Homo sapiens: one gene and its partners. The gene in region 1 interacts genetically with each later gene. Each region holds a gene or a part of one and is shown in the gene's direction. Other genes may lie near its edges. The genes, in order: ETAA1, KIF3C, LRRC57, RPAP1, KMT5B, CACNG1 and SURF4.

Region 1 (3,500 bases):
AAAACTTACTAGGTAGTGAACCTTTTGCTATGCAAAATATCGACATGCCTGAACTCTTTCCTTCTAAAACAGCCCATGTTACTGATCAAAAGGAAATTTGTACCTTTAATAGTAAAACTGTTAAAAATACGTCAAGAGCAAATACAAGTCCAGATGCCAGGTTAGGAGATTCAAAAGTATTACAAGATCTTTCTTCAAAGACATATGACAGAGAATTAATAGATGCAGAATATAGATTTTCACCAAATTCAAATAAATCAAACAAATTATCCACTGGAAATAAAATGAAATTTGAGAACTCTTCCAATAAAATTGTTATTCAAGACGAAATTCAAAATTGTATAGTTACATCTAATCTGACAAAAATAAAGGAAGATATTCTTACTAACTCTACTGAAGCTTCTGAAAGGAAGTCAGCTTTGAACACAAGGTATTCTAATGAACAGAAAAATAAGTGCATTTTAAATCAGTCTATTAAAGCCCCTGTTAATACTGATCTTTTTGGCTCTGCAAATCTAGGCAGTAAAACCAGTGTTAGTAACCCAAATCAGACTAGTGCATCAAAAGTAGGTTCTTTCTTTGATGATTGGAATGATCCCTCATTTGCCAATGAAATTATTAAAGCATGTCATCAATTAGATAATACCTGGGAAGCAGATGATGTAGATGATGATTTGTTGTACCAAGCATGTGATGATATTGAAAGACTAACTCAGCAACAAGACATTAGAAAGGACAGTAAGACATCAGAAAGTATATGTGAGATCAATAATAATTCCGAACATGGAGCCAAACTAACTCAGCAACAAGACATTAGAAAGGACAGTAAGACATCAGAAAGTATATGTGAGATCAATAATAATTCCGAACATGGAGCCAAAAACATGTTTGCTATATCTAAACAAGGAAGTAATTTGGTACAATCAAAGCATTTGAATCCAGGCAGCATTTCAGTGCAGACATCTTTGACAAATAGCTCACAAATAGATAAGCCAATGAAGATGGAGAAAGGGGAAATGTATGGAAATTCTCCAAGATTTTTAGGTGCCACAAATTTGACTATGTATTCTAAGATCTCAAACTGTCAGATAAATAATCTGCATGTGTCTTATACTAACACTGATGTTCCAATACAAGTGAATAGTTCCAAATTGGTTCTTCCAGGAAGTTCAAGTTTGAATGTAACTTCAGATCATATGAATACAGAAATTACTACTTATAAGAAGAAATTGAGTACTAATCAGCCATGCCATAAGACTGTAACAGATGAAGCTCAGAGCAACCTTAACACAACAGTTGGATTTTCAAAGTTTACATTTACAAGGATGAAAAATTCTCAGATTCTTTCTCAGTTTAATCAAAATTGTATAACTGGAAGTATGTCTGATACCAAAATTACACAGGGTGTGGAGAAAAAGAAAGGTGTCAACCCATTACTGGAGGAAGCTGTTGGACAGCAATCTTTGGTGAAACTTTCTGAATCTTTGAAACAATCTTCAAAAGGTATGTATGAAATATGAAATAGTTTTCTTTGAAAAGCATCTTAAAAAGTAGTAAAATAATTATTTGTTGTTTTTGAGTGTGAGTAATGTATAAGGTAAAACTATTCTATGACTAGTTAATTTTAAGAATTAACTAGAATTCTTAAAATGATACTTGGAAATAATTATACGGCATTATACAGAGTAGTTGGTTTATTTTTCAAAATATTACATTGAATTCTTTCCCAGCACTTAATACAATGACTGGCATATAGTAGGTACTCAGTAAATATTTTTTGAATAACTTATTCTTTCTTGGAAAATCATACCTTTAGATATATGTATTATAGTGTTCATTAAGATTGTATTTACTAAATTGTTTTAAAACTTGAGTAATCTGGGAAGCAGATGATGAAGCAGTGAGGTAAATAATATTTAGAAATTTAGAGCATTCTAATTAAACGTCTTTACTAGTGTGATATTTGATATAAACGTGCTAGCGGTGATGGTTAAAATTATGATTTACTTATTTGATAACAGCTATCATTTCTGATTCTTCCAATTTCTCTTTTCCCCAAGTCTCCATTCTATCAATAAGTTTCATTCTTTCAAAAACCGTATCCCCAGACTCCATTTTTCTTTCTACAACAAGTTAACATTTCTTGATGAGACTACTGCAGTTCTTTTATCTATCTCCTTTCAATTCTTATCTCCAAACAGTGGAATAGCCTTTTAAAATTGGATGGGCAAAAATGGCGTTTCTATGCTTAAAACAACCTTCAATGGCTGCCCGTCATATTTCAAATAAAATCCAAACTGTATACTGTGACCAACAAAGCTGTGGATTATCTCTCTTTAACCTGCGTCTCCTCTTTTTTCCTTACCTACTAAGCTTCAGCTATACCAGCTATCTTTTAGTTTTTCAAACAGTGTATGTTTTTCTTCCTTGTCCAGGAACTTAGACCGTGCTCTTCCCTTTGACTAAAACTACTTCTTTTCAACATGTGACCCCTTCCCCACTCTTTTGTTGGTGCTTTCTTACATCTCAGTATAAGTACTACTTTCTCACAGAGGCCTTCCTTGAAGAGTCTATAAATAGATCTCCTTGTTTATTTTTTATTTCCTAATTGCTTTCATCACAAGTTGAAATTAAATATTTAGTGACTCTTCTCTGTCTTGTTGGCATTACTGTTCCAACTTTCCTATCTAAGTGACTTTTTTTAAAAATTTACAATAGTAATATGCTAGTTATTTAAAAAGAAAAGTAAAACAGTATAGAATAATTTAAAGGAAAAAGTTAAGTCTTCTGTTTCTCCTTTCTGATAACCATCCCTTACGGAAAACCACTATTAATAGTTGGTATGATGTAGCATTTTCTATGAATATAAAAAGATATGTGTGTGTGTATGTACGTATATATGTGTATGCATATATATATACCTATAGATCTATTTAAATATTAATAAATCTGTATACCCACTATTTGGCAACTTGCTTTTGCCTTAATATATTATAGCTGTCTTTTCCTATTAGTACATATAAATTTATTTTAGTCCTGTTAATGACTATGTGATATATATGGTGGATGTATCATAATTTAACTGTTTCTCTGTGATGGAAGTTTGGGTTGGTTGCAGTCTTTTGCAATTACAAACAATACTCCAGTAAATATCCTTCTGCATAAATTTCCGCATGCTTGTATAATTGTATCTGTTAATTCCTAAAAAATTGCTACAAGAGGAAGTTTTAAAATTTGATGGATACCACCAAATTTCTATCCGAAGCAGTTATACCAATTTATCTTATCAAAACTTACAGTAAATAATTCTCTACACCCAAGGGTGTCCAATCTTTTGGCTTCCCTGGGCCACATTGGAAGAATTATCTTGGATCACACATAAGATACACTGACACTAACAACAGCTGATGAACTAAAAAAAAAAAAAAAAAAAATCACAAAAGAATCTCATAATGTTGTAAAAAAGTTTATGAATTTGTGTTGGGCTGCATTCAAAGCCA
Region 2 (2,200 bases), about 41 Mb from region 1:
AATCCCAGCTACTCGGGAGGCTGACGCAGGAGAATTGCTTGAACCTGGGAGGTGGAGGCTGCAGCGAGCTGAGATTGTGCCACTGCACTGCAGCGTGGGTGACAGAGTGAGACTCCATCTCAAAACAACAACAAAAACACAATATACTCTAATAGAAGTGATGCAGGTGTGTCTGTCTCTCGAAACATCTGATTGTACTGTACTTGCCTATTTTCAGACCACAGTAACTGAGACTGTGGAAAGCGAAACCACGGATGAGGGGGACAACTGCACTAGCTTCAGTTGTCAAGCTGTATTAGAGCAAGGAGAAGAAAATTCCAGAACTTGCAGTCTGCAGGGCCTCCTAGCTACCTGAATGATATTTAGGTCCTCATGATGTCATTTGCTGTTTGTGTTCCACAGAAATCCTTTCTAATATAGCCTCTTTCCTACAGCAGTAGCAGCCAGATGAAGAAGCGGCCAACATCTGCAGTGGGCTACAAGAGGCCTATCAGCCAGTATGCTCGGGTTGCCATGGCAATGGGGTCCCACCCCAGGTACAGGGTAAGAAGCGGAGAGGGGAGAAAGAGCCTACGGGAGGGAGGCCGGGCGAGGTGTCTCACACCTGTAATCCCAGCACTGTGGGAGGCCGAGGCAGGTGGATCACCTGAGGTCAGGAGTTCGAGACCAGCCTGGTTAACATGGTGAACCCCTGTCTCTACTAAAAATACAAAAATTAGCCAGGCGTGGTGATGGGTGCCTATAGTCCCAGCTACTTGGGAGGCTGAGGCAGGAGAATTGCTTGAACCTGGGAGGTGGAGGTTGCAGTGAGCCGAGATTGCACCACTGCACTCCAGCCTGGGCAACAGAGTGAGACTCCATCTCAGAAGAAAAAAAAAAAAGAGCCTATGGGAGGGGATGCTCACAGCCTCTGCTTCCCCTAACCACCTCATCAGCCCTGCTACACCCAAGACTGGCTGAGTCCCTAGAAGGCACAGTGACTGGGCACTGTTCAAGCCTGGCATGATATTCCCACCACAGGCTGAAAACATAATGTTTCTGGAGTTGGATGTGTCCCCTCCAGCTGTCTTTGAGATGGAATTCTCTCACGACCAAGAACAAGACCCTCGTGCGCTACACATGGAGAGGCTCATGCGATTGGACAGCTTTCTGGAAAGACCTTCCACGTCTAAAGTCCGAAAGTCCAGATCCTGGTCAGTACCTCCATGGTCCCAGGCAGCACTGGACCCAGGAGGCAGGGGAACTGCAGGCGCTGGGTGATGCTAAAGAGGGTTTTGCTGGTACCCGAAGGGCAGGAAGGGCAAGGGGTGACTGGGGATGTCAGAAGGATTCCTGCAGCAACAGGATGGGGCAAAGGAGAGGACCCACTTTCCTGTTTCCTGTATTTCCCTAACCTCCCCTTTCGCCTGCGTCATCTCCCCTGCAGGTGCCAGAGTCCTCAGCGGCCTCCACCTTCCACCACACATGCCTCCCTGGCCTCTGCTTCTCTGCGCCCTGCAACAGTGGCGGACCATGAGTGACAACCATCACGTCAGGCTGCCCATCCAATAGACTCCTGGGATGGGGCAGCCAACCCTGGCTCATCTCATCTGCCGCTTGGTGCGTGTGCGTGTGCGTGCATGTGCGTGTGCGTGTGTGCAGGGGTGAGAATCTGGCAGATGGTGCCTCTGCCTGCTCTTCTTCGCCTCCTTTATTTAATTCATGTTATTTATTCGCGGAGCTCTGTTCGTGTTGGGGAGATGCCCTCGCCTGAGCCGTCTGGGCCTACCGTGGTCACTGCGTAGCCTCTTTTTCTTCTGACTTGAGAGCTCCCCCAGTCAGATCTCAGGCTTGTCCCCCTGTCAGCTGCCTCCAGAAGGGAAGGTAGCCAGTGCCTGAGAAGACAGTCCCTTTTCTACCCACCGCACTCCATAACCTCCATCTTCTCCCACACTGATGGCGAGCAGCCCCTGAGCACTTTCTGGGACTGGGAGACTGCTTGGTGTTCCCTGAGGACAAGAGACATCCTGACAGTGTTGGGCATCTGCTCCCCGTGGACACAGCCCCACTCTCCACTTTCTGAGCCTCAGACAACCTCATTCAGCCTCTTGGGCTCCTTTTCAAGGACATTAATAACCTCACCAACATAGCTCATGCCCTTCAGCTTTGACAAGAACTCACAGCTTCCCAAACTCTGCTTTCTGCCCACCTTGGATGGGAA
Region 3 (3,500 bases), on another chromosome or scaffold:
GAAGAATCCAAAAGATAGGAAGAAAAACCAAAAAAGGACAAAAATAAGGGGTTTTAAGGAAGGGATAGATAGTACAGTTAAATGCAGTAGGGACTGAGGACAATGGATCCTTGAATTTGGTAGTAAAGTGGTCAGTATCTATGTACACATAAAACATTGGCAGTAAATGTACCAAAATGTTTATGGTGGTTATTTCTGGGTGGTGGATTCCAGGTAAACTTTTTTCTTTAAACCTGTGATTCTCAAATTTTCTATAATGAACATACAGTGCTTTTATCATCAGAAAATTTTGTTCCCAAAAAGCCATGGGTGACCTTCATAAAAGCATTTTTTTTAAGTGGGGGCGTAGTAACAGAAGCTAGATAACAGAGGCTTCTGGAGTGAGTAGGCAGTGAGAAAATGGAGGTGGTAAAAGAGGGGAAAACTAGAACAAATAGTCAAGTAAAGATTTTTGTTTTGTTTTAATGTACTAAAAGTAACCAGTATAGTGCTTATGCTTTTTCCTGTTATTCTTTTGTGGTTTTTCAATAGATATCTCAGATCTCAGTGAAGATATCTTGCTGTCCACGCCTTAAAATTCTTCGCCTGGAAGAGAATTGTCTTGAGCTCAGCATGCTTCCCCAGAGCATCCTCAGTGATTCCCAGATCTGTCTGCTTGCTGTGGAAGGCAATCTTTTTGAAATAAAGAAACTTCGAGAACTGGAAGGCTATGATAAGGTATGAATTAATGTACTTCTGCATTTCTAGTCACTACCCCAGAGAAGACAATGGTGAAGTAATCCACAGAAATGTTTATAGCTCATGTCAACAGGATTTGTTCTTCCCCATTTTGGAAGTAGATTCAAAGCATTGGCTGAATGGTATTGTACCAAGATGACTTTTTCTCTATAGACAGCTTATTGTAAAGCATCTTTGTCTTCATCTTTGTCTTTTGATATATATATATATATAGTGTGTGTGTGTGTGTGTGTGTGTGTGAGACAGGGTCTCACTCTGTCGCCCAGGCTGGAGTGCAGTGGCGCAATCTCAGCTCACTGGCGCAGCCTTCACCTCCTGGGCTCAAGCGATTCTCATCCCTCAGCCCCCCTAGTAGCTGGGATCACAGTCGTGTGCCAGTATGCCTTGCTAACTTTTGCAGGGATGGGGTTTTGCCTTGTTCGCCAAGCTGGTCTCAAACTCCTGGGCTGAAGTGATCTGCCCGCCGCAGCCTCCCAAGGTGCTGGGATTACAGGTGTAAGCCACCACACCCGGCCCTATGTGCTTTATTTATTTATTTTTTTTGGAGGCAAGGTCTCACTCTGTCACCTGGCTGGAGTGCAGTGGCAGGATCTCAGCTCAAGTGATCCTCCCATCTCAACCTCCTGATTAGCTGAGACTACAGGCGCTACCATGCCTCATTTTTCTATTTTTGGTAGATTGCTCAGGCTGGTCTGAAACTCCTAGGCTCAAGCGATCCACCTACCTTGGCCTCCCAAAGTGTTGAGATTGCAAGTGTGAGCCTCTGCACCTGGCCAAAACTATGTAATTCATTTTGCATTTACAGCAGTTATATTTTGTAGGAAATGAAAAACCACATGCAATAAAAACCAAAATGAAAAAAAAAATAGTTAGGCTTATATTTATTTACTCATGCCAAAATACCCCTTATGTATTCTTTCATGTTTTTTAGTACATGGAGAGGTTCACAGCCACCAAGAAGAAGTTTGCGTGAAGTTCTCCAGGACTATGGAAACCTTACAGGATACTGACTTAGAACCTCTGTTGGAATGTGGCTGAGTCAAAGCCTCCTGTTGTTGTTAGGGGTATCTACAGTAAGGAGATGATACTTCAGGAGATTATATTTCACTCAATGATCTTTTCTCATTTCAGGGCTCTTCTCAAATAAGCTAAAAGAAAAAGGATCAGGAGACAGGAAAAGTCTTCCGTTTTGAGTCATGAGTAGGGCAATAGACAAGGTTCTCTTCAAAACCATCATTAGTTTGGCTTTAAGAAACCAGTAGCTAGCTGCTATTTATATGGTGAGGGGGTGCTGCCTGGTAACAGAATAGCTCCACACCACAGCTTGAGATTTTGTTTAGTTTCACTGTGTGAGCTTTCATAAAGTCTGTTGCCATTCCATCTCTGTGTTAACACTTCATATTTTTATGAAATTCAGATAATTTGTGAGAGGCTGGCATGGATCTAAGGATTTATTATTTTTATTCTAGTCCATCAGTTCAGTCGCAGTTTTTATACTAGGACTTTAGGATGTACATAAATGTGTGACTGTTTGTCTTGATTAAAAGTGCACTTTGGCCTGGGCATGGTGGCTCATGCCTATAATCCCAGCACTTTGGGAGGCCAAGGCGGGTGGCTCACTTGAGGCTAGGAGTTCAAGACTAGCGTGGCCAACATGAGGAAACCCTGTCTCTACTAAAAATACAAAAATTAGCTGGGTGTGTTGGTGCATGCTTATAATCCCAGCTACTTGGGAGGCTGAGGCAGGAGAATCGCTTGAACCCAGGAGGTGGAGGTTGCAGTGAGCCGAGATTATGCCACTGTACTCCAGCGTGGGTGACAGAGTGAGACTCTGTCTCAAATTAAAAAAATAAAAAATAATTTTTTTTTTTTAAAGTACGCTTTGTTGGCTGGGCACGGCGACTCACGCCTGTAATCCCAGCACATTGGGAGGCCAAGGCAGGCAGATCACGAGGTTAGGAGTTCGAGACCAGCCTGGCCAACATGGTGAAACCCTGTCTCTACTGAAAATACAAAAATTAGCTGGGCGTGGTGGTGGGTACCTGTAATCCCAGCTACTTGGGAGGCTGAGGCAGGAGAATTGCTTGAACCCAGGAGGCAGAGGTTGCAGTGAGCCGAGATCATGCCATTGCACTCCGACTCTGGGCAACAGAGCAAGACTCTGTCTCGGGGGAAACAAAAAAAAAGTGTGCTTTGTCAAGAGAAGCACCAGCAGACCTCTAAGAACTGCTCTCTAAGGCTGCGGTAGCAAATTATCTACTATTGCAGGTGCCTTATTGGTAGAGGGCTCTGAAGAGCCAAAACTGTATATGCAACACTTGTAAGATAAAAGGGACTTTAATAATCAAGATTTTCTTGAAGATTTGTTAGAAATAATGTCTTATTTCTGGTAACCTTTCCCTTTTTGTATTTATAACTCTACTAACCAAATTACCTATCAATAAACCATTACTATAATATTTTAAAACAACCTATGTTTATCAAGCTTACTCTCTGAGTGACAGAATATACTAAATAAAGAATTTTTTAATGAACTTTGGCTGGAAGCAAGGTTAATCCTTTAAAGGAGGAGGACAGGAGAACTTAAACCTATAAATAGATTAGGAAGACATGTTTCATGCTTATGTTCAGATTGTATGAGTAGTGAAATGCCTTCATGTGACATAAACATTTTGTGATACTAGAACTATGCTTATTAAGAGAATCTGAGGTTGGGCGCGGTGGCTCACGCCTGTAATCCCAGCACTTTGGGAGGCTGAGGT
Region 4 (4,074 bases), on another chromosome or scaffold:
AACAAGACTTCCAGTTGATTCTGGTGCCTGTTAAAGTTGGAAAGCCACTGGACTAACATTGGCTGCCCCATGATGTCCTTTGGTCTAGAAATGATTTACTTAAGGTCCTACTATGTGCATGGCAACACGTTGGGTGCTCAGTATTTAGATGCAAAGTACAAGGTCTGGTGCCCACAAGGAACTGACAGTCTATTCAAGGGAACAGGACATAAGCCTGTGAAAAGGTAACCGGTGACAGTTGGTAGTTGGCAGTGTGTTCTTAGCATACCACACAACTGGTGCAGGCGGTGAGATTCCAGGTGAATCCAAGGAAAGTTTGGTGAGTAGGCGTGGCTGGCAGAGGTTTTAGAGTTGACGCCAGCTAGGCCTTAAAGAGTTATCCTTTGGAGACAGGGGTGGCAGGGAAAAGAGGGAGGATTTCCAAGAAGGGAGAGTGGGATGAACAAAGGCAAGATTCTGGAGAAGATGATAACCTTGCTAGCAAGGAAGCTTTATTCCCTCTCTTCTCACCACCACTATTTCTGCAGTGCACACTGGCAGTGTTCTTTCCTTGGGCCTTTTTCATGGTTACCTTCTAGCTCTTCCATAAACACATTCGTCACGTTGGGGTGTGTGTGTGTGTCCACGTTTCTGTGTGCTGCCGTGGGCGTGGGTGCTGGGATGTGGGATGTGGTAACACTGGCTGGTGAGTGCAGAGGGACGTCTGAGGAACGCTGTGTCCCTGCCAGGGGTGTCGTAAGTGCAGAAGGGGCTGTGCCTGCTGTACATCAGAAGCATGTGTGGGCCAGGCGCGGTGGCACATCCTGTAATCACAGCACTTTGGGGGGCCGAGGCGGGCGGATTACCTAAGGTCGGGAGTTCGAGACCAGCTTGGCCAACATGGTGAAACCCCGTCTCTACTAAAAATACAAAAATTAGCCAGACGTGGTGGCGGGCACCTGTAATCCCAGCTACTCGGGAGGCTGAGGCACAAGAATCGCTTGAGCCCGGGAGGCGGAGGTTGCAGTGAGCCGAGATTGCGCCACAGCACTCCAGCCTGTGCGACAGAGCAAGACTCTGTCTCAAAAAAAAAAAAAAAAAAAAAGGATGTGTGTTCTGGGTGATGGTATAGAGCTTACGTGGGGGTAATAAACCGCCAGCCGCGCAGCACCGCGCTCACCAGTCCGCTGCACTGAACAAGCAAAGCCCAGAATGCTCCGAGATAAGACCGGGAGAGGCGGGGCTGGGCTGCGGGGCGGAAGCTGGAATCTGGCGGCGGCGGAAACGCGATCTCTGCGGGGCAAGATGGCGGCGCCCAGACAGGCCTGGAGCACGTAGGTGGCGGGGCTGGAGGGACGGATTTCAGGTGATCTGGGAGGAGGACCCAGGGTAGCGTGTCCAGTTTCTTTGCTGGAACCTGCCTGCGGGCCTTTGGTCTGTAAGGGAGCAACTGTGGCCTCCTCTGTGCATAGATCTCGGGCACGGCCCTTCAACGGGCGGCGAAAGCTGCGACTCGATGATTCCTCATTGTAGAGTTGGGTGGTCCAGGAGGCTTAACTGGAGCCCTTGACCTGAGCGGTAAGGGCAGTCACGCGTCCCGACTCGGGATTGGATCCTGGCTCTGGAGGATAGGCTGCAATGTAAGAGCCCCAGAGACTCCTCAGAGGCCAACATAAACCCAGAGGTCCATTGTTAGGACTACTTTTTTTTACGAGTTACTCTTTAGGCATTACTCTTTAGGATTACAGGCGTGAGCCACCGCGCCCGGCCAACCCATTCTTATTCTATTAATAACTGAAAATGTTATCACTTCTAGCACTGATTGGTTCTGGACAAATCTGCGCTGGATTTGTGGGGAAACACACTGGTGGCTTTACTTAGGACTAAAATAATTGTTACTGAGGTTTATTTATATAAGTAACAGGCACTGGGCTAGGCGTTTTGCGTGTATAGTCATTTAAATCCTCACACATTTCCTATTATATAGGACCTGTTACTCACATTTTACAGTTGTGGAAATGGGACTTAAGACAGCATAGAGGCCGCGCACGGTGGCTCACGCCTGTAATCCCAGCACTTTGGGAGGCCGAGGCGGGCGGGTCACCTGAGATCAGGAGTTCGAGACCAGTCTGGCCAACATGGTGAAACCCCGTCTGTACTAAAAAAATACAAAAAATTAGCCGGGCGTGGTGGCAGGCGCCTGTAATCCCAGCTACTCGGGAGCCTGAGGCAGGAGAATCACTTGAACCCAGGAGGCGGAGGTTGCAGTGTGCCGAGATCGTGCTATTGCACTCCAGCCTGGGCAACAAGAGGGAGAATCTGTCTCAAAAAAAAAAAAAAAAAAAAAAAAAGGACAGCATTGATAATTTGCCTAATTTCGCACATTTAGTGCATTTAGTAAGTAGCGGAACTGGTATTTGACTTCTGGCCTATTGATTCCAAAACTGGTGCCCATAACCCCCTGGCTCTCTTTGTGATGTAGGTATGGCGCACCCTATGAAGTGAGCTGGACTTTGCTTTTGGATCACATGAATCCATGGATAAGTAGGAATTGTTTCTGCTTATGTAGACTCTTATAGGAGTGAATTGTTACCATACTATGGATTCTCAGTTCATCTAGTTCAGCCTTCCTTAGGGCCTTTGGGTAGGCATTGGGGTAGGAGACTTTTTCCTTGTTTGTTGGTCAGACTGCCCAACAATTAGATATGGTTATCTGCCCTTTGGCTATATAAATAATAAGAATCATAACTGGCGTTTGTGTCCTTTCATGTATGAGACTCTGTTCTAATCTTCTTACATATATATAATTAATTCAGGAGGTAGGTACAGTTATCTTCATGTTACAGATGAGGAAACAAGCACAGTAACTTCAGTAAAATACCTTGCTTAAGCTTACACAGTTAGTAAATGGCAGAGCCTGGATTTGAACACAGGCAGTCCATTTTCATACTGTTTACCTCCCATCCAGGAAAAGGCACATCTGTATACTTCGCTGTTGTCATGCTACAAATAGTAATTAATACAAGTTCTATGCCAAATTTAAGATGAAATTTTGTAGACAGGTCTTTGCTCACTTCATCCACTTCCTTCAGTTCTCTACTTATCTAAGTTTTCTCTTTCAATATTGACCTCTATTTTTAACCTTTAGGGATTTTTCCCACCTCTGAAATCGTGTAGCACTGATCTTCTATGCAATTAATTTCATCACTGGGATGTACTGCCTTGTAAATTTATATGTGTGTTTACCATATTCTCTCACCCCAACTTTGGGTACATCATTGACCAAAGGAAGACCTTTACAATCTTGGAGACATCATTTAAACTGTAAACCTTTGGAATTTCTAGACTTGTGTGGGCAAAGAGAGATAATGAAGTGGGAAATTATTAAAAGACCCAGCATTTCGGCATGGTCTCTGTCTCCCCAGTAAGCCCCTTGAACCCAGGGACTGGATTTTACTCCCATTTCTTTATATTTACAGCCCCTTGTACACCGCTCAGCCCAGAGTAAACTCTCAAAAAATTTTTTGATAATGTTCTTAAGGTCACACCGTCATGTGATTGTTTCACCATTTCTACCCCTTTAGCCTGCCCCCAACCCCTGTGTTGGGAGGTGTTTCCAAGGCTGGCTTAGTTATTAGATCTGATCCTGCTTAGAAGTAGATGAAGAAAAAGTAAGGAAATGTGTCATTCAGCACTTTTTTTTTGAGACAGAGTCTCATGCTCTGTCCCCCAGGCTGGAGTGCAGTGGCACGATCTTGGCTCATTGCAACCTCCACTTCCCGGGTTCACGCCATTCTCCTGCCTCAGCCTCCCCAGTAGCTGGGACTACAGGCGCGTGCTACCACACCCAGCTAATTTTTTGTATTTTTAGTAGAGACGGCATTTCACCGTGTTAGCCAGGATGGTCTCGATCTTCTGACCTCGTGATCTGCCTGCCTTGGCCTCCCAAAGTGCTGGGATTACAGGCGTGAGCCAGCACACCCGGCCTTCATTCAGCACTATTGTTAGTTCCAGCTATCTAGCTTGTCTACCTCTCCATCTCATCCTCCTTCAACTTTTAGGAGGTGGTCAACTTCATCATGTTCTCCCATGTAC
Region 5 (4,050 bases), on another chromosome or scaffold:
GCGCTCATCGTTCTGTTGTCTGGACTACAAGATCGATGCCCAGGCAAGCTTCGCAGCTCCCCGGCTCGCAGGCGGCCCGGTCCCTCAGGATCTCCCCGCCAGCCCGGGATCCCCGAGGAGGGATCGCACGGCCAGCGCGCAGGGCACACCCGGAGTGGAGCGGAGCACGGCGCGGGGCACATAGTGGGTGCTGGGGGCGGCGGGGCCCGCGGGGGGCCAGGCCAAGGCGCGCCCGCTCTCCTCCTCCCTCGCATGCTCCGCGCAGGAACGCTCAGCCTGCCCACACGGTCTTAGGGTGCATCTGCTGCCAGTGACCCCCATTCCCACAACAAAAACGCTCGTCTGCCCGGGGCCACCTCCCTCGGAGCAACTGGGACGCGCGGCGGGAGGGGGGGGGGTCCCCTTCCCCAGGGCTGCAGTCCGAGAGGCTGGCTCTAGAGCCGTCCCTGGTAGGGGCAGGTGTGCAAAGACCCAGGGCCCGGGACAGCTGCCGCGGTCCCGCGGGGACCGGGACCGGAATGCGGTCGCGTAAGGGCCGCAGGGGACCCTAACGTGGCGCCCGCGGGGCGCGGGCGACGCCGCCTCAGCCGCGATTTAAAGGGCAGCGAGGGCGGAGGGATCCCAGCCGCCTACCGGCCGGCCGCGAATCCCTCCGCCACGAGGGGAGGCGACGGCTCGCTCTGAATCGCCCTTTGTCCCTCCGCCGTCGGGAGCGCCCGGCACAGAACTCGCTCCCCGCGCGTGCCCGCGTCCCGCACAGAGCCCCGTGGAAGCGCCGCGGCGGCTGGGCCTGGCGGGAGGCGCGCGCACACTGTGGCAGCTGCGCCGCACGGTGTCCCTCCGCCGTCGAGGCCGCGGCCTTCTTTTCGTATCCTTCCACCGTGCCCGGGCGGGGTCCAGGCGGCTCACCGGGGGCGGCGACGCGGCGGCGGTGCGGGCGGCAGGGCAGCGGGGCGATGAGGTGAGGACGCCCGGGAACCGGAGGCGGCACCGCGCGGCGCACGGACCTGGGACGCGGAGTCCTGAAGCCGGCGGACGGTTTTCGTACGGGCGGCCGTGCGCGAGGCGAGGTGAGGCCCCGGGTGGCGGGGCGCGGGGGCGGGCGCCGGGGGCGCAGCGAGCCGAGGCCGGGGGCGCGGGGGGCGCGACGGCGGCGGCGGCGGCCGGTTGGGGGCGGGGGGCTCGGACGCTGCGGGGACTCATTTTTCCCGTCAGCGGAGGGAGCGAGCGGTGCTGCGGCCCGCGCCGCCATCTTGGATTTTACTCTCCATTTTTCTCTGGAATTATTTTTGGTGATTAATTTTCTGGGGGGGACTGGGACGCGGGGCCCGGCGGCGCGGCCCCGCATCGCAGCGGCCGGGCAGCGGGGCCTGGGACGCGCCCCGAGGAGGAGCGGGGCGGCGCAGGCGGTGAGTCGGGGGAGGGGCGGGCGCCGGCGAGGGTGTGCGGGGGGCGGCCTCGGTGACGGGGCGGGCAGGGACGTGGGGGACCGCGGGCCCAGGCCGGTCGCAGGGCTCCGGGGCCAGGGCGGGTGGGGCCGGGGCCGGGCGCAAGCGGCCGGGCGCGGGGGGCGGGGCTGCGGCCGGGCCGGTGCGGGGCCGGCGCGGGGCCTGCAGTGGTGGCCGCGGCCGGAAGGGAGCGGTAGCGGCCGCCGGGCAGCGTCGGGGCCGGGCCCGCGGCCGCACGAGGGGAGCAGCCCCGCCGCTCGCGATTGGGGGACTCTGTTTTCCCTTTTCTCCAATGGGCAGCCGTGAACCGTCTCGCCCAATCTGCTCCCACTGCCGCGCTGAACTTTTTGTTTTTGTTTTGGCCCGAGCGCATTTCGGAGCCCTCCCGAGCTCGTCCTGCAGCCCACCCTCCTCCCCGACGGCGCCCCTGGCCGTGGCCCGGCGACCCCGCGGCCGCTGCGTCCCCTTTGTGCTTTATCCGCTCTCCCTGCGTCCCCTGGTGTGTGTCTGTCCTTCCACGTATTCGCGGATGATGTGCACCGTTGTCACCTCCGCCTTGGAAGGAGGAACAATGACAACTCGATGCAACTTGCTGGATTAAGATAGAAACAAGTTGGGTGCTGAGAAATTCAGTCTATTTGGGTTTATTGGACCCGGGTCTGGAACAGTAACTTAACGATTTATTAAGTGGTGGAACTTTCGGAATACTGGGGAGGTGAACATGTGTTCTTTGAAGTTAATTTTTAAGAATTTGCCAAATGAAATTTACCTGGAGTGGGGGGAGTTTTCCTTAGAATAGAGGGCAGGTGAATTAATTTGATTGATTGTGGTTCTTTGTGATGTGGACCTTTTTCGATTTAAACCAGTTTGATATAAAGTGTAGTTGAGGATGGCCATACAGGTCTGAACTTTGCTGTGTAGGATCTTTAGAGGAAGCAGTTGCCAGCTATAACTTTTTTCCTTTAGTCTTTAATATTGAGAACACGCCTATAATATTGATAATTAGTAGTAAAAAGAAGTATTTTCAAAAGAGGAGGAAACCATTTTTACCTGAAATAATTACAGATAATGTGTGCATGTTGAAATACATAAATTGCCGCTTGCTGTAAATACAGATTTATTGTGTATCTGAAGGTTTAGCAATTTGAACCAGAGGTGTGGCCCTGTCCCTCTTGGAGCGCCTTATATTCCCAGGTTAGAGTCCACAAACGCTCTAATCCCGGCTTGTGTGGGAACTCCAGCCCATTTTTCACTTTGTAATCTCTAAACATTCGACATTCTGGTCCCTCTCCCAAGCTCTGGCTCCAATAGCTTCCCATACCTGGTCCCTGTCGGCCGTGCCCTGCCCGGCATTCCTCCACCCCTTTTCTCCACCCCGTACACTCTTGTCCTTCAGAAAGGCCCCGTGAGAATGTTGCTTCCTGGTGAAACCTTCACACACACAGCCGTTGGGGTGGTTACTCGTGAGTTTTTGAGTCTCTTGTTATCTCGTCCGCCCACGGGCAGGTACAGAGTAGGTGCTCATAGACCCTTAATGAATGGGTTAATTTATTAATCTCCAAGTTGTCAAGCTTAATAGTTTGTATTAGTTTTTCAAAATAAATCCACTTTAATGTTGTTTACAAACATAATTATATTTTAAAAACTGAGCTGGAGAGTGAAGGGAATATGGTAGATATTTCTTCAATAAGAGAGTAGGGTAGGGCTTGATTCTTTATCCATGATCATTTCCAAGTGCTCTCGCGCCTTTATTTTCATCTGCTTTCCCAAACACCCTGAACTGCTCATGCAGTGAACTTTTTATTCTCGCAGCAAATGCCAGGGGACAGTAGTGGGGAAGGTGGAGGTGGATGGAGGGTAGCGGACTCTGACAGGGAGAGACGCGTGTGAAGGAAGTGTCCCGGTGTCTGCGTGTCTTTCAGCAGAGAATTTAGTGGGTGGGGGATGTTGGTGATTTTTCTCTTGGGTTATTTAAAAAGGAGGTTGAATCTGATTTTCCTTTACCTGATTATCAGTTTGTGGGTTTATAGGGCCTGGGTTCGTGGCCAGGTTGTGTGATAAAGAGATTTGTGTGTGTGGCATCTAAGCAGCTCCCTGTCCACAGGAATGCCCTTCCCATGGCTTACAGAGCAAATCCTTTCAGATAAATCGCCGTGGTCCCATTATTTCGTGTTTCTGTGTACCATGTATGAGCTTTACATTGGCAAATCTCTCCATTGGCAAAATCCTTCTCCGTGGTCAGGAGTTCCCCGACTATGTCAGCCTTAGAACGCTCTGATGGTTAAGAATCTTCCTCACACTTTTGACGATAGGGACCATGTGTCCTCCCTCCGCTCCATCACCCTGTTAGCTACAATACTGCATGTTAAGTAAATGCAGGGGGTGATCCATTATGTGTCTGGATGGGGTTGATTTGGGGCTAGCCGGTCTCCGAATGAGACAGACTTGAACACCAGGCCATCTTCTAGGGCCGTATGTCAAATGATGACTGCTGTATAGAAGTGTAATTTTAGGAATAGTTGAAGGACCATGGAATAAGAATCAATTCTTATTCCATTCTCTGCTCTATCACTGTTTGTATAAGTCATTGATAGGGCCTAGA
Region 6 (3,500 bases), on another chromosome or scaffold:
GTCTGGTGATTCCCTGAAAACCCCCACTTGAGAAGCTGTTTCTGTTTGACCTGACTCTGAGCTCATCCAGTGCAAATAGTCTTTCTCCCTGGGGATGTTTGTTGAAAATAATTAGAGATGATTGATTAACATCATGGCTGTCTGAGGCAGTAGATAACAGTTAGGGAAAACAACAGGCTAACCAAAAAACTGGAGACTGAAATGTCCATAAGTTGCTTTGAAAAGCTCCAACATATTCCTGGGAATCTAGGAGGCCACATGCATGCACAATGCTATATGCATGCTCAGGAAAGACCTGAGAAGGCCCTAAGCACTCTCTGCCTTATCTTGAGACTCTGTTCAAGCAGGAAGTGAAGGCTAAGGCAGAGATGTGGGTGGCTTAGCTGAGCATGAAAGTCATATGCACAGAGCCCCTCAGTAAAGACTGGGAGAGGCATTGTTGCCAAGCGTTTTAGGAAATTTATAATTGGTCACTAAGCTAATTGAACAGGGATCTCAGTGATCACACATGACAAAAAACACATACTTTACCATCTTAGTTCAAAAAAGTCACTAAACAAACAACGGGAACAAATCTTCAAGAAGGGGGAACAACTGATTTCCAGAGTTGCCACATTATATTGTTTAAAAAATACTGGCTGGGTGTGGTGGCTCACTCCTGTATTCCCAGCACTTTTGGAGGCCAAGTGAGAGGACTGCTTGAGGCCAGGGGTTTGAGATCAACCTGGGCAATATAGCAAGACCCTGTCCCTACCAAAAAAAAAAAAAAAAACAAAAAAAAAACCCCACAAAATATCCAGGAGTGGTGGCATGTGCCTGTAATTCTAGCTACTCCCAAGGCTTAGGTGAGGGAATTGTTTGATCCCAGGAGTTAGAGACTACAGTGAACTATGATCATGCCACTGCACTCCAGCCTGGGTGACAGAGCAAGACTCTGTCTCTAAATAAATAAATACATACATAAATAATACAAGACACACAAAGAACTAAAATGATAAGGGGCATACATGGGGCAGGGAGAAGTCAATAGATCTGTAAGGAAGCCAGATATTGGACTTACTAGACAAAAACTTTAAATCAGCTATAGTAAATATATCCAAAGAAAAAACAATCAAAACAATTAAAGATGAAAATGATGCCTCATGAAATAGAAACTATCAATTAAGACACAGAAATTATTTTTAAGGACAAAATAGAAATTCTGGAGTTGAAAAGTACAATAACTAAAATGAGAAATTCACTAGAGGGGCTCAATGGCATATCTGAGCAGGCAAAAGAATCAGTGACCTTTAAGATAAGTCAGTTGAGATTAGCCAGTCTGAGGAACAGACAGATAAAAAGAATAAAGAAAAATGACGAGAGCCTCGGAGACTTATGGGACACCATCAAGTTTATGTAAAGGGAGTCCCAGAAGGAGAGGGAAAGAGAGAAAGGAGCAAAAAAGGTATGTGAAAAATAATGTCCAAAAGCTTCCCAAATTGGATGAAAAACGTTAAAAATCGACAAATTTATGAAGCTTAATGAACTCCAGGTAGAATAAACTCTAAGGGATCCACATCTAGACACATGATAATCAAACTGTTGAAAGATAGAGACAGAGAATCTTAAAAACGGAAAGAAACAACTCACCACATATGAGGAATCCTTAATAAGATGAACAGCCAATTTTTCCCCAAATCTATGGAGGCCAGAAGGTGGTGGGATGACATACATATATTAGCTCACCTAATCCTCACAGAAACCTCCGTGAAGGCCATGCTATTATCATCATCCCAATCTTACAGATAAAGAAAATCAACCACTGAGAGTTGAGATATTTGACAAGGTAACACAGGTGATGAGCAGAGCAGCCAGGACTCACACTCAGACCCTAACATTCACCGTTTTAGTCAATACATTAACTACTTTACAACAACCCAGTGAGTGGGTTCTTATTCTACAGGTGGTTCTTATTCTACAGGTGGGTCTCATTCTACAGGTGGTTCTCATTCTACAGGTGGTTCCTATTCTACAGGTGGTTCTCATTCTACAGGTGGGTCTCATTCTACAGGTAGGAACAGGGAGGCTGAGCATAGCCTTCCCCAGGCTAACCAGCTAACAAATAGAGGTTCTCCACTCAAGTCTTGAATCCAGAGCCTCCTTTCCCTCCAGTTCCTTCTCACACCCTCTATTGTGCATGAAAACACAGCTCCTAAAAGCTCTGACCCAAGTGAACACAAGGAGTCCAGCTTTTGACATGGCATAGTTTGAGGGCAGCTGGACCAGAAGCTGGTGCAGTGGAGCAGACTTCTCAAGGTCCCACTTAGTCTTAAAATGTTGGAGGCTCAGTGGGCAAGAGTTGTCTAATTTTTCCAAATTAGACAGTCTTAGACTCCAAACAGTCTTAGAAGGACTTCCATGTACAAGATCAACATCCAAGACCAATTCCAATGCCTCCAGAATGAGAGTAGGAGCCTCTCCCAAAGGAGAGACTATGTGTTCTGAAAGTCCAAATGAACCCGCAAAGAGGCCATCCCCTGCCCTTGGGCTGGGTGAAGTGCTGCTTCTTTCAGACTCTGCCTCTTTAGGGCAAGGAGGCAGGTTGCCCCAGGGCCCACTTTGCCTAGTGCCCCATTTTCCCTACTGGTCCATCTTCTCTCAGTGCGGGAACTGGGATTGTATAAAAGAGCATGATACTACTGACCCCAGGAATTTCATGGGCTCACTTCACCACCCACAGAAGTCCATGCCAGAGGCCTAGGCCAAAGCCAGGCTTCTCCCATGGAAGAGCAGTGCTCTGAAGCTCTAGGGTCAGGTCTTGGAGATTTCCAGCCCATTTTATAAAATTCTTCAATCAGAGATGTGGAAGGAGACACAGCCCAGAGAAACCACTGTTGGGAGCTGATAGAACTTCTTTTACCAAAAGGCTAAAAACAACACTGACATCAATGCAAGTTAGAGGCTTCCTTGCACCCCTAAAGTACCAGTTTCTTTGGTTTTGGACAAATCCACAAAGTATCTTTGAATATATGAAAGTCTCCATGGACAGTCACTTGGCACACTGATACATTCTCAGTGATAACCCAAGGCATCCACTAATCCTGCCAGCTGTTCCAACTATCAAAGAAAGATCCCTATTAACTCAAGTTCAGCTTGGAGCTAAATGTGGCTTCTGCTCTAATTCTTTGAAACTGGCACACTACACATGGTTCTGCACAGTTACTGATGCCCTTAACCAGAACACTGGGTTAGCCAGACTATTCCATCCCCCAGTCAAGTCTGAGAGCTGAGTTCACCATATTTTTAATAAATAACCCATTTAATATTTTTAAACCGCTGAGTCTTACAGAAATAAGGAGATTAAAATCAGCATAAGCCATCTGCAGAGACAAAGGAGAATGGCACGACCTCAGAGTTCCTAACACCCCAGATCATCATCCTGGCATTGGAATCTTTGCTGACTTAGTCGGAAGCAAAGCTGCAATCCCTGAGCTTTGTGTAAGTGTGATGGAAGCCAGGGC
Region 7 (3,500 bases), on another chromosome or scaffold:
CCCTAAAATTCACAGGGGAGTATTTGGGGCCTTTTTAAAAATAAAAAGTGAAACAAGGTCTTCCTCCTAGTAAAGTTGGAAAGCATCTTACCAACCATTAGTTCAGGTGGCCTCACTCTACTGCAGGATAGTAGAGACACTCTCAAAAAAGTAACTGGGCGTGTCCAGGTCACACGGTGTGCTGGCTGGATGGTACCAGGGCAGGATGAGATCACAGGGCCTCAGAACCTCCACCTGCACTTCATCTCCCAAACCCACTTGGTGATTCTCTGGGTATCTGTCGGTCACTGTGATTTCTCCCATCACTTCCGTGGAGTCAAAGGCTGAGTAAATGTGTGCAGAACTGACACTGCAGGGCGCAGTGGGTTTGGGGAGAATGGCCACCTGGCTTTGTAATCTCTGCCTCCGTTCTCTGCCACATGGGAGCCAATCTGCAGTGCTGACCTAGTCAGGGCCCCACCTGACAGGCTGGAGGGTGACCTGAACACCCAGGGGCGTGGTAACTGAGATGGGCAGCTTCAGCAGTGTCTAGGACTTTGAAGCAACTTTTAAAAATGCTGAAAAATAAGAAACACGCATATCTTCCTTTGTTCCAACAGTAGGTTTAGTCAGCCCTAGGAGGCCTGTGCAGCTGACGTTCGCTCGCCTCCCGTGGGGGTCAGCCTCTCGGGTGCTCTTTAGACTCTGGCTTCCCAACATGCGTTGGTGGATGGGTCCCCTGATCTTTCTCCGAAGGACTTGCTGTGTTACAGTATTTCTTTCACTTTATATCTCAGTTTTGCATGGGTGATAAGAGAAAAGTGCATGGGGTGAACCTGCGTGACATTTGTACCTGGCATCCGATAGTGCATGTTGGCTACCTAACCCAGCCGTCATAAATGACCTGACTCACAGCACAGCAGGAAGTCATAAATGTTTTCTTTCCCTTTGACATTTGACAGTGATTTCACACACTTGCGTTTCATTGCTGTTGAAACAGCTGTCCATCCCATTTGTTAGTGTGTTTTAATTTGCTCGAGATTATGCAGGCTTTGACAAAATCCCAGCGCTTTCTAGCCATTAGCGGTACCAGCTTCATGCTGCGCTGACGGTTGCTGCACACACAGTCCCCACGTCAGATCCTGAGCTTGCAGGGGAGAGCTCCGTCGGGCTGGGAAGCGCCAGCCCTGGTTTGCAACAGCACACATGCGCTGTCCAGAGCCTGGGGCCTCCTCCTGCTGCTCTGGAGATTTTCGGATAACTGTAAACGTGATCTTACTATTCAGTCAACCATGTGGCCCTCTAGGTGTGGCACCCTGGCTGTCACCTAAGCCAACCCTTGTTCTGTCAGGGTACTCTGGGCGTCACTGGGCAGGCTGGGAGGTCCAGGCCCTTGGCACCTCAGCCATGTGTGACCTGCAGGCTGGGGTCAAGTCTTGGCATTGCACCATCAGGTCTGCGAAGCCTAGGGGAACCCCTTCCCGCTGGGTTTAATATAGCCATTTGTAAGGTGAGGGGTTGGACCAGAGCAGCGGAGATGCCTGGCAAAGTGCAGCGGTGCCTCAGGAGGGAGGCTGCTGCTGGCATGTCGTGGGCAGACATGTCGTGCGTCATAGCCTGCAGCACCCAGGATGACCCACGGCAAAGAGTGGCCTGGCCTCAGATGCCAGTAGTGCTGAGGTGCAGAAACGTTGGATAGATGACCTCTAAGTGCCTTTTCAGATGTCATTCTGTGATTCCAACTTGTAAATGCCTTTGACCGAAAAGAGCAGCTCTGTGTCTTGTGGCAGTGCCACCTTGGAAGACTGTAGTTGCCTGCCGAGGCACTGGGGGAAATCACGGTAGCAGAGTGTTAGGGCTGCTGCCCTATAGGATCTGCCCCAGAGGGCCTAACGTCAAGTCATGCATCTCCGGGACTGATCCTTGGATTGTTGCATGTGTCCAGACTCACAGGGTAGCGCTCAGGAGCAAGCACTGAGAGCCCCCTAGTCTGCCCTGGGAAGGCACCGGGGCTGACAAGAGCTCTTGCCTTCCACAGCGTCTGTTCCTCACACACCCCGCCCAAGGACGTGCCTGGCAGCGGCCTGGTGCTCCCCGCCGCAGCCACCTCACCCTTGGGTTTCTGTGGCCCTGCAGTTCCTCCGTGTCACAAAGCAGTACCTGCCCCACGTGGCGCGCCTCTGTCTGATCAGCACCTTCCTGGAGGACGGCATCCGTATGTGGTTCCAGTGGAGCGAGCAGCGCGACTACATCGACACCACCTGGAACTGCGGCTACCTGCTGGCCTCGTCCTTCGTCTTCCTCAACTTGCTGGGACAGCTGAGTGAGTGGCTCTGCGGGTGGTCAGGATTCACTGGGCGTCTTGTTCCATGATCGTTAGCAGTTGGGAGGCTGTGTGTGAACTCGGGGGTCTCCTGGACTGCTGTCCCCCCTCCATTCCCCTCTTCTCCAGCTCAGCTGTGCCAGGCCAGGAGTCCGGTTCTGCAAGCCTTGGTGGGGACGCTTAGTCTCTAGCCCTGAGCTCACTGCTTTAGAGCTTGCTAAGGAAATAGGACATGGTCCCTGTCAGGGACCCAAAGCAGGAGATGCTGGAGTCTGGCTGGCAGTCCACAGTAGAGCAGTTAATTGCCTACCTCAGGTGGGTGGCTGACTTGGGAGCTGATTGTGGGAAACAGCCCATTCTTTATGACGGCAAGGGCTCCACTTTCTGGTGTTTGTGATAAGTCTAGTCAGCTTACCATGTGTGGTCCTTGCCTATCATTAATTCTTCCAGAAGTTGTCTTTTGCTTGGGTAGGTGGTTTGGCTGCCTCTGGACCTAAGGGCCAGGTGAGGTAGCAGTGTATCAAGACAGTGCTCCCCGCCGGCACCCACCCTCAGGCCCCCTAACCCTTGTCCTTCTCTCCAGCTGGCTGCGTCCTGGTGTTGAGCAGGAACTTCGTGCAGTACGCCTGCTTCGGGCTCTTTGGAATCATAGCTCTGCAGGTACACGGGCCGCGTGGTCGGGGCTCCCTTCTCTTTGCTCTGGTGGAGCAGAGCTTCTGAAAAGACATCCTTGAGGGTTCAGTGTCACTCCCCCTTCAGCCCCCTGCATGTCTCTGACTGCCTGGAGCTCCTTTCTCTTCTGGGGAAGTCGTGAGCCCAAGCAGGGCTGTAGAGGCAGGTCATTCGGTACTGGGCCATCTTTTGTCCCATTTCTATGATTACCGTGACAAGGGAAGTCTCGAGCTTGGCTGCAGCCAGGATGCTGTCTTGTTATCACGTTGCTTCATAAAGAAGAATACTTGGTTATTCAGAATGAAATGCTGGGAACAGAATATCTGAATCCACATCAGTGGTCTCAGAATCACTTTGTTCTCTGGAACATCATAGCACATTTCTTGAGAAATACAGAACCACATTTTTGAGCTTAGATCTGTCCTCGGTCTCCTACAATGGTTTTGTGTGTTTTAGACTCCAGCTGACATTGGAGAGACGGCCTAATGTATTATGAAGTCTGTGGAAATGCCTTTGGAAAGGCTGA

The links.
Region 2: changes in ETAA1 (region 1) and KIF3C are lethal when combined (synthetic lethality), as found in Homo sapiens cells (one large-scale study listed by BioGRID).
Region 3: changes in ETAA1 (region 1) and LRRC57 are lethal when combined (synthetic lethality), as found in Homo sapiens cells (one large-scale study listed by BioGRID).
Region 4: changes in ETAA1 (region 1) and RPAP1 are lethal when combined (synthetic lethality), as found in Homo sapiens cells (one large-scale study listed by BioGRID).
Region 5: changes in ETAA1 (region 1) and KMT5B are lethal when combined (synthetic lethality), as found in Homo sapiens cells (one large-scale study listed by BioGRID).
Region 6: changes in ETAA1 (region 1) and CACNG1 are lethal when combined (synthetic lethality), as found in Homo sapiens cells (one large-scale study listed by BioGRID).
Region 7: changes in ETAA1 (region 1) and SURF4 are lethal when combined (synthetic lethality), as found in Homo sapiens cells (one large-scale study listed by BioGRID).

What each region holds. Positions count from the first base shown.
Region 1 is NC_000002.12:67,403,833-67,407,332, forward strand, and holds part of ETAA1 (ewing's tumor-associated antigen 1), read left to right. Parts: coding exon 1-1,503; intron 1,504-3,500. UniProt on the Homo sapiens protein: Replication stress response protein that accumulates at DNA damage sites and promotes replication fork progression and integrity.
Region 2 is NC_000002.12:25,928,298-25,930,497, reverse strand, and holds part of KIF3C (kinesin-like protein KIF3C), read left to right. Parts: intron 1-434; coding exon 435-543; intron 544-1,020; coding exon 1,021-1,193; intron 1,194-1,426; coding exon 1,427-1,520; 3' UTR 1,521-2,200.
Region 3 is NC_000015.10:42,542,294-42,545,793, reverse strand, and holds part of LRRC57 (leucine-rich repeat-containing protein 57), read left to right. Parts: intron 1-531; coding exon 532-717; intron 718-1,669; coding exon 1,670-1,711; 3' UTR 1,712-3,500.
Region 4 is NC_000015.10:41,541,458-41,545,531, reverse strand, and holds the start of RPAP1 (RNA polymerase II-associated protein 1), read left to right. Parts: upstream 1-1,274; 5' UTR 1,275-1,313; exon of another isoform or gene 1,314-1,619; intron 1,620-4,074. UniProt on the Homo sapiens protein: Forms an interface between the RNA polymerase II enzyme and chaperone/scaffolding protein, suggesting that it is required to connect RNA polymerase II to regulators of protein complex formation.
Region 5 is NC_000011.10:68,210,497-68,214,546, reverse strand, and holds the start of KMT5B (histone-lysine N-methyltransferase KMT5B), read left to right. Parts: upstream 1-1,250; 5' UTR 1,251-1,409; exon of another isoform or gene 1,410-1,413; intron 1,414-1,960; exon of another isoform or gene 1,961-2,911; intron 2,912-4,050. UniProt on the Homo sapiens protein: Histone methyltransferase that specifically methylates monomethylated 'Lys-20' (H4K20me1) and dimethylated 'Lys-20' (H4K20me2) of histone H4 to produce respectively dimethylated 'Lys-20' (H4K20me2) and trimethylated 'Lys-20' (H4K20me3) and thus regulates transcription and maintenance of genome integrity.
Region 6 is NC_000017.11:67,047,554-67,051,053, forward strand, and holds part of CACNG1 (voltage-dependent calcium channel gamma-1 subunit), read left to right. Parts: intron 1-3,500. UniProt on the Homo sapiens protein: Regulatory subunit of the voltage-gated calcium channel that gives rise to L-type calcium currents in skeletal muscle. Regulates channel inactivation kinetics.
Region 7 is NC_000009.12:133,366,061-133,369,560, reverse strand, and holds part of SURF4 (surfeit locus protein 4), read left to right. Parts: intron 1-2,017; coding exon of another isoform or gene 2,018-2,115; coding exon 2,116-2,302; intron 2,303-2,885; coding exon 2,886-2,962; intron 2,963-3,500. UniProt on the Homo sapiens protein: Endoplasmic reticulum cargo receptor that mediates the export of lipoproteins by recruiting cargos into COPII vesicles to facilitate their secretion.